2 linked regions of the Homo sapiens genome follow. The protein of the gene in region 2 interacts with the protein of the main gene of each other region in a pairwise test. Each region holds a gene or a part of one and is shown on either strand. Other genes may lie near its edges. The genes, in order: SFRP1 and NHSL3.

Region 1 (4,527 bases), on a different chromosome or scaffold from region 2:
ATAGTGTCTCTGTGGAGCGCTAAGATCTGTGACCCCTTTGCCACATGGGGTGTGCGCTCAGACTGGGCTATGAATATATCAGCCTCTCTCCACCCGCACTTAGGGACAGAAGATATGGAGACTCCAGGAACTTCATGAACTATTTGCTGTGGTCTTCTGTCCCGGGATAGTCCGGGTCTCACTCCCAGCTCTCCAGAGCTTAACCCTCCCTCTCAGGGGAATGTTTGAAACCTACGAAGAATTCTCAGGAATTCGAGGTAGAAGGTGGCAGAGAGACTTCTGTTCCTGGGGGCCGAGCTGTTGTGCTGATACCGTCCTCTTGGCGTCTGCCCTAGTGGGGACCCTTGATTTTAACTTGAAGTTCCTGGACTGGGTCTAACCTTAGCATGTGTGCCTGAGTGATGGACTTGGTATTTACACCAGCCACGCTGATAAGTGCACATGTGTTTTTAATGTTTTGGCTTTCCACACCACAAACACACAGATGTGCTGTCGCCCGGGCTAGGACTTGAGTAGGGTTTTTCTATTTAAATATATATTATATATTTAAAAAAGTGTCCTCCCAGAGCTAATACCGTTGCTAGCAGCTCTTCCTGCCGCCACACCGGGCAAAGTCCACCCACTGCCCCAGTGTTGAGGGCCACCATGGGCGGCCCCACCTGGAGAGGTGCTGCTCACAGCAAACAGCTCCAACTGCGCCTTCGCCTCGCCTTCCAGGGAGCCCAGCCAGGCCCACTGGGTATTTACAAGCAGACCTCCCTCGCTTCAGCCTTCCTGAACCCCTGTTAGTTGGGAAACCACCTGTCTGCACCGCAGCTAGAGAACCGAGGAGAGGAGCCGCTAGTCTAAAGGGCTGTTGGTTGAAATTAGGAAGCAGTGTAAAGAAAAAGAAAAAAAAAGTTTGGGAGGCCAAGGCAGGAGCATCACCTGAGGTCAGGAGTTCGAGACCAGCCTGGCTAACATGGTGAAACCCCGTCTCTACTAAAAATACAAAAAATTAGCGGGGGCATGGTGGCACGCGGCTGTAATCCCAGCTACTCGGGAGGCTGAGGCAGGAGAATCGCTTGAACCCGGGAGGCGGAGGTTGCAGTCAGCGGAGATAGCGCCATTGCACTCCAGCTTAGGCAACAAGAGCGAAACTGTCTCAAAAAAAAAAAGTCTTCATAATTTCATGGGTTTGCAAGTATGATCCAGGCTCCCCGCTTCTCTGCAAGCCAATGCGAGTTAATTACAGCGTCCGCCCTGGTCTCTCTCCACCCCACGCCGTGATCCATTCCCCTTCTTTTTCTCCCCTTGTCTCTTTCCTCCTCCCCCTTTTATTTATGTATTTTTGGTTTTGTTTTTTAAGGGGTGTTGAGCCGCGTCTGGTTCTAGTAAACCGAACCCGCTCGCGAGGGAGGCGATTGGCTCCCGCGCCGGTGACGGACGTGGTAACGAGTGCGGCTCGCCCCGCCGGGAGCTGATTGGCTGCGCGGGGCGGCTCCGAGGGCTCGGCCGTAGGAGCCCCGCGCACTCCAGCCCTGCAGCCTCCGGAGTCAGTGCCGCGCGCCCGCCGCCCCGCGCCTTCCTGCTCGCCGCACCTCCGGGAGCCGGGGCGCACCCAGCCCGCAGCGCCGCCTCCCCGCCCGCGCCGCCTCCGACCGCAGGCCGAGGGCCGCCACTGGCCGGGGGGACCGGGCAGCAGCTTGCGGCCGCGGAGCCGGGCAACGCTGGGGACTGCGCCTTTTGTCCCCGGAGGTCCCTGGAAGTTTGCGGCAGGACGCGCGCGGGGAGGCGGCGGAGGCAGCCCCGACGTCGCGGAGAACAGGGCGCAGAGCCGGCATGGGCATCGGGCGCAGCGAGGGGGGCCGCCGCGGGGCAGCCCTGGGCGTGCTGCTGGCGCTGGGCGCGGCGCTTCTGGCCGTGGGCTCGGCCAGCGAGTACGACTACGTGAGCTTCCAGTCGGACATCGGCCCGTACCAGAGCGGGCGCTTCTACACCAAGCCACCTCAGTGCGTGGACATCCCCGCGGACCTGCGGCTGTGCCACAACGTGGGCTACAAGAAGATGGTGCTGCCCAACCTGCTGGAGCACGAGACCATGGCGGAGGTGAAGCAGCAGGCCAGCAGCTGGGTGCCCCTGCTCAACAAGAACTGCCACGCCGGCACCCAGGTCTTCCTCTGCTCGCTCTTCGCGCCCGTCTGCCTGGACCGGCCCATCTACCCGTGTCGCTGGCTCTGCGAGGCCGTGCGCGACTCGTGCGAGCCGGTCATGCAGTTCTTCGGCTTCTACTGGCCCGAGATGCTTAAGTGTGACAAGTTCCCCGAGGGGGACGTCTGCATCGCCATGACGCCGCCCAATGCCACCGAAGCCTCCAAGCCCCAAGGTAAGGCTGCCTCCTCCCACGTGCGCGAGCCGCCCCCTCCATCCCCCGGCCGGAGCTGCAGGAGAACCCGCGCCACCCTACGCCCGCCCGCCGCTGGGTCCCGGTGCTGGGGACTGAGGGCCCGAGGTTGCTCGCATGCTGTGCACGTGATTCCTAAGCGCGTCTGGTCTGTCCCAGGTATCGCTCAGCGCCCCTCGCGACCCAGGTGCACGGCGGGGCTGGCCCGGGAGCGGCAGCTCTGCGCCTTGGCCTCGCAGGGACTCGCTGTGGTCCCCGGAGCCGCTCTTCCTGGGATCCAACTTCGCCTTTCCCATACCTGAAACAAAGCCTTGCGCTTTAAATAACAGGGGAGCTTCCCTCTCCTCTAGGAGGACTCCGAGTCCCTATCGAAGTTTTTAACCTCTGAGACGGGAGGAAAAAACAAAAACCCAAAGCGTAGAAAGTTCAGAAAGGCCGAGAGAATGCTTGGAGCAGCTTTTGTTTATTTTCATAGGTTCGACAAAGATTTAAAAAATAAAACCAAGCCCTTTCCTTCACTGGTCATTCAGTCAAGTAGCCTTGGGATTGCTGCAAAACTGGCTGAGAAAGTTTAGGAACCGTGGGGACTTCTGTTTCTCCACCCCTTCCAGGTACCAGCTCTGCCCTCGGAGGGCTGGGGGTGGAAAGTCTTTTCTCCCTCCCTCTAGCGTACCCCCTGCTTTTCTCATTTACACAAATCCTCAGCTCATTAGAAAGATAAAAATGTAATTAGCTCATTGTTCATCTCCTCCCGGGGAGAGCAGCTCTGCAAAATGCAGACTTTCCTAACAGCCTGAGGGACCGGCCCGAGGTTCCTCTCAAAACCCCCTTATGTTTAAAGAGCAATTCTTGAGGGGGAAGAAAAAAAAATCCTGGGAAGTCAAATAAAATGAAATAGATATAAAGATAAAATATACACATCACAGACCTGACTTCTATAGAAGTAAATTCAACCCAGAATTCTTTAGAAGCGAAGTTTAGGCTCTGAGGTGTGGAGAGGGTCAGGGATTGGGGAGCTGTACCCCAGCTGCGCTTAGCACAGACGCAGGCTTCCTGAGGGCTTTTTGAGGAGGGCCTTTAGGGTGGGGGAGAAAGACTGCCTACACTTAGCTCACCTTAAAGTGTCTTTAACCTCTGTTATTGATGCTAAAAGAGGGGAGTGCAGTCACCTGGCTCCTCAGAGTGAGGATTTGGGCAGGTGGGGGAAAGGGATACCCCAAATTTTAGATGCTTTTGCTTATTCTAGGGAGGGTGGAGATGGGTCCACAGTGACTGTCGTTGGATGGCTGGATGGGAACGGCACTGATTGCCCGCAGTGGCCAGGTCTGGGCACCGCTGCTCTCAGAGTCAACTCTGGTGTTGGGAGTGGAGTGAGGGTAGCGGATGCATCTGCACTTTGTGAGCGAGAACTGAGCAGTTACCTGGAGCAAACAAAGCGCCTTGTGTTCTGTTGGCTTGCACCCATCCCCTGCAGCCTGCGGGAATTTCCTTCTCCCCTTCCTCAGCCAGCGGGGATTAGCCCAGCCCTGCCCTGTGAGGCTGTGCCCAGCCCTGACCTGGAGTCCATTCCCAATGGCTTCCGATGGTCTCTTTCTGGGACCGTCTGCAGACATGAGTGGACACCTTAGGGGGCTCGGCTGCGGAAAAGGTGCTGCAGTCCACAGGGAACATGGGGGGATTGGACGGGTTGCCTGAAGAAGAGAGGAAAGAATCCCTCACCCCAGCCCCCAAAAGGCTGTGATGGGATGGGGAAACCCCATAATCGCTGTCTTCCGGACACCTTTTGCCCCTTGGCTGCAGTTCCACTGGTCGGCGCCCTTCTCAGCCTGGCTTGGAACCGTCCTCACTCACCTCCACTCCTCCCAGCAGCGCTCAGGTAGTCACCCTCCCAAGACAGGTCTTTGAGGAGCAAAGAGAAAAGTGGGGAGAGGGCCGGTCGGGAGTGGGGCTTGGGACTGGTTTTCCCCTCAGTGGTTTTGGTGGGGGGCTCTGCCCTGAGATGGCACACCACCCTCCCCAGGACTGCAATCCCTGGTGTAAGGGAGCCCCACGTGATTTCCTGCGAGGTCCCTGTGGAGGGGAGGGTGGGGCGTGTGTGTGTGTGTGTGTGTGTGTGTAGGTGTGTAGAGGGCAGGTCAAGACAA
Region 2 (3,799 bases):
CCTCCTGGCTTGGTTCTGGCACTAGGAGCCCAACAAAGCATACCCTCACCCAACCTTCTTACCGCTTTGATTTACTGACAGTGCCCGCAGCACTGGGCTGGACACCCTACACATGTTCAGACACTATAATGTAGGTGTCACTGCCCCACACTTTACAATGTAGCTAGGAAGGGTAGGGAAAGAGGCAAAGTTGGAATTCAAACACAGTAGGCCTGACACTCACACACCATTCTCCTCTGGGCCCCAGCAAGGGTGACAGCTTGCCCTTCCCAGGCATTCTCAGACCAGAAAAGTTAAAGATCCAAGAACAAATCCCCCATGGCGGGACTTCAGATTCCTACTTCCCATCATCAGCAATGGGACCTCACCCTAGCACTGCCCACTGTACCTGAGCCCGGGAGGCCCATCTTCTCCTCTGGGCCCACCAGCTGCAGGACACCTCCATTCTCCGCCAGCTCCCTCTTAGTCCTGTCCTGGGTGTGAGGGAGCCCATTGGTGGGAGGAGCAGTAAGGGGCTCAGCTCGAGGGTAACTGGGGGAGGCGGGTGGGGGGACTCCCACAGACGGCTTGCGGGCCACAGGTGGGGGAGCCTTAGGTGACTTCTTTGGGGCCTGGGGTGGCCGCTGCTCTGAGATGCTCCGGAGTTCTGCCACCAGATTCCGCTGGAGGTCAGCCTGGGTCTCAGGGGACACGGGCCGCTCCAGCTGCAGCTTCCTAGAGCCCTTGGAGAAGATGAAACTGGCCGTTGAGGCAGGGGACTGGGGAGGCCGTGGCTCTGCCTCAGGCGGTCCGTTGGGCTGAGCACTTGAGAGGCCTTCACTGGCGGCCAGGCTGCAGGCCTTGAGTCGGACCGCAGCATGGAGCCCTGAGGAGGGGGCAGGCACTGGGCTGGCCCGCCCTGACAGGGCCCTTCGCAGTGGTTTCTGGGGGGCCGATGGCCCCAGTGCTGGGGTGGGAGCCCCTCCTGGAGCACCCACGGAGCGCAGCCGCACCATCTGCAGGAGCGAGGGCGTGACCAGGGGCGCACCTACGTCCTCCCTGGGAGGCCCACCACCCTTGCTACAGCCCACCGGTTCCTTCTGAGGGAGCTTGGCCACATGCCCTGGGGCGGAACTAGCAGGAGCTGGGGCTGGCGGAGCTGGAGGAGGGTCTGGGCTACCCGGGGGCTGAATCTGCAAAGCAGTAGCTGAGGAGGACGAAGCAGCCGGGGAGCTGACAAGCTCTGGGGAGCCTGAAGGGCCTGCAGGCTCAGGGCTGGCCACAGAGAAAAAAGCCTCCTCTGGTGGGGGGAAGTCAGCCATGGACAGGTCCTGCTCCTCAGGGGCAGGGGGTGGGGGAGGGGGCCAGTTGGGATCTTGGAGGGGCTCCTCAGCAGTCTCTGAGGCAGATGGTGCCTCCACAACCACCTCTGGCTTCTTAGTGGGTGGTGGGGGTGGATGATAAGATGGGGGTGGGGAAGGTGGGGGTGACTGGTCTTTGGAGATGACAGGAGACTCCTGCAGTGGAGTCAAGGTTGTCTGGGGAGTGGGAGGGGACTGAGGACTGGCGTCAGTGGTAGAAACAGGCCCAGGAACCACAGCAGGGGCGGCTAGAGCAGGGGCAGCTGGGTTAGGGCTCCTGGGCTTGGAGGGAGGTGGGGAGAAGGGGGCAGGCACCTTGGGGTGAGGAGGTATGACAAACCTGTCACCCAGGGGGGTCAATATCTGTGGCCCAGAGCGGTCTGAGGGGGCTGGGTCAGAGGAGGAGGAACATAAAGACGTGAGGGAAGAGGAGACGGAGGCCCCAGGGGAGCGAAGAGACGTGACACGCTCTGGTTTAGGGGGCTGGGCCTTGCCTGGGGAAGCAGGGGGACCTGCCAGGCCCTTGGGAGGGAGGGTGGGAGTACCACTTTGGCTCGAGTATCCACTGGAGGGCGAAAGTGTCCGTTCTGGGGACCGTGGGGGGCGCCGGGAACCACCCGGAGACAAGCCAGGTACCCAGCTGTTGGCTGGGTTGGGTGGACAGGGTGCTGCCCCCGCCCCTTCTGAGCCACCAGTGGTGGGTGGCCGAGGCAGCTGGGGCTGCTGCTTACGCTCAGGCTTAGGGGGCAACCCTAATGGCCCATCAGGCACTGCTAAGCCCCGCTGATGGAGGGAGTGGGTCCGGCGGGGAGGGGGTGGAGGCCGCTTCAGCTTACGCAGGGACACACTCCGGCCAGACAACTGCCCACTGCTCCGAATGCTGAGTGTGTCTGAGGCCTCAGCAGTGCTGCCCCCACTGGGAGAGCCCCTCCCACTGCCTCCCTGGGGAGGGGGTACCACGCTATTGCTAGCCGTAGAGCTCTCCGGCTGGCCCTCAGAGCCACCCTTAGAGGAGAGGGTGGAACCGTCAGACACAATGGTGTCGGAGGATTGAGAGTGGCTCCAGGTGTCACTGGAGGAGGATGGGTGGCGGCTGCGGGGCTGTGGGCTGGAGACGGAGGAGAAGCGCCCCAGCGAGCGGACTGAGGCTGGGCTGGCCGAGTGCAGGCTGCAGCGGCTTAGTGTGCGCAGGCTGCAGCGGCCTAGGGCCACCACGTCCACTGTAGGCGGCAGCACAGCATGTGGAATCAACTTCGACAGGTAGGTGGCCTGGGGGGAGATGGACATGGCCGGGCTCAGGGGCTCTGCAGGCCCTGCCCCTCCTGTCAATCCAGGCACTGCTAGGGACATGGGCCGGGTCAATGGTGGGGCCCGGGTACCCGTGGACCGGCCAACAAAGGTGTCATCCCGGTAGACACGGTCAATGTGGCGCTGCAGCATGGCCTCTGTCTCAGCGCCAGCCTCCGCCTCCGCCTCCAGCGCCTGCAGGGACACCCGGGCCCCCATCCCTGAGGTGCCTCGGGGGCGGCCGTCCACTGTGGGGATGCGTACGGCATCCCGTGCACCAGGAGCCCGGGGCGTGCCTGGTGCCTCACGCTCATTCCTCAGGCCTGGAAGGGACAGGGAGGAGGTGGGGTCAGCAGAGAGGGGATGACCAAGGCTCCCCACCCACCCCACCACTGCCCTCCTAACCCAGGCCTCACCAAGCTCCTTCTGCACATGCTGCGGGAGTCCCAGCACAGTGCTCCGCCGCTCCCGCCGACGCCGCCCTGACTTTCCAGATTTGGGAAATGAGTCATGGGGTCGGAAGGTGGAGCCTGGGGGCCAGTCGTGGGAGAAAAACTGTTAGAGCAAAGGACTCCAGGCACATTCTGCAGGGCACTACTTTTGTAATAAGAGCTCTGCGAGAAATGGTTTCCACAGTCAAGTAGGTATGGGCAAGGCTAGGTTAAACAAAGCTAGAGGCTTCTTTCTGTAAGACTAAGGCTACTAAGTCAATGATGGTAATTTCCCTTTAGTGATAGCTTACTATTTAGTAAACATATTATTACGTGTTAGTCGTCATTCTAAACATTTGGCATTCATTCCAATAGGGTACTTATCCTCATTTTTATAGAACATCAAACAGAAGTTCAGAGAGGTTAAGGGTTTTCCCAAGGTCACACAGCTGGCACTAGTTAGTTACACCAGGCTTCCAACAGTTAAGATTTTCTAACTCTTTTTTTATTTTTTTTTTGAGATGGAGTCTCACACTGTCGACCAGGCTGGAGTGCAGTGGTGCAATCTCGGCTCACTGCAAGCTCCACCTCCTGGGTTCACGCCATTCTCCTGCCTCAGCCTCCCAAGTAGCTGGGACTACAGGCACCCGCCATCAGGCAAGGCTAATTTTTTGTATTTTTAGTAGAGACGGGGTTTCATTCACCGTGTTAGCCAGGATGGTCTCGATCTCCTGACCTCGT

The links.
Region 1: the proteins of NHSL3 (region 2) and SFRP1 interact in a two-hybrid assay, tested with the Homo sapiens proteins (one large-scale study listed by BioGRID and IntAct).

What each region holds. Positions count from the first base shown.
Region 1 is NC_000008.11:41,306,454-41,310,980, reverse strand, and holds the start of SFRP1 (secreted frizzled-related protein 1 precursor), read left to right. Parts: upstream 1-1,507; 5' UTR 1,508-1,821; coding exon 1,822-2,365; intron 2,366-4,527. UniProt on the Homo sapiens protein: Soluble frizzled-related proteins (sFRPS) function as modulators of Wnt signaling through direct interaction with Wnts. They have a role in regulating cell growth and differentiation in specific cell types. SFRP1 decreases intracellular beta-catenin levels.
Region 2 is NC_000001.11:32,769,031-32,772,829, reverse strand, and holds part of NHSL3 (NHS-like protein 3), read right to left. Parts: intron 3,158-3,799; coding exon 3,044-3,157; intron 2,951-3,043; coding exon 389-2,950; intron 1-388. UniProt on the Homo sapiens protein: Able to directly activate the TNF-NFkappaB signaling pathway.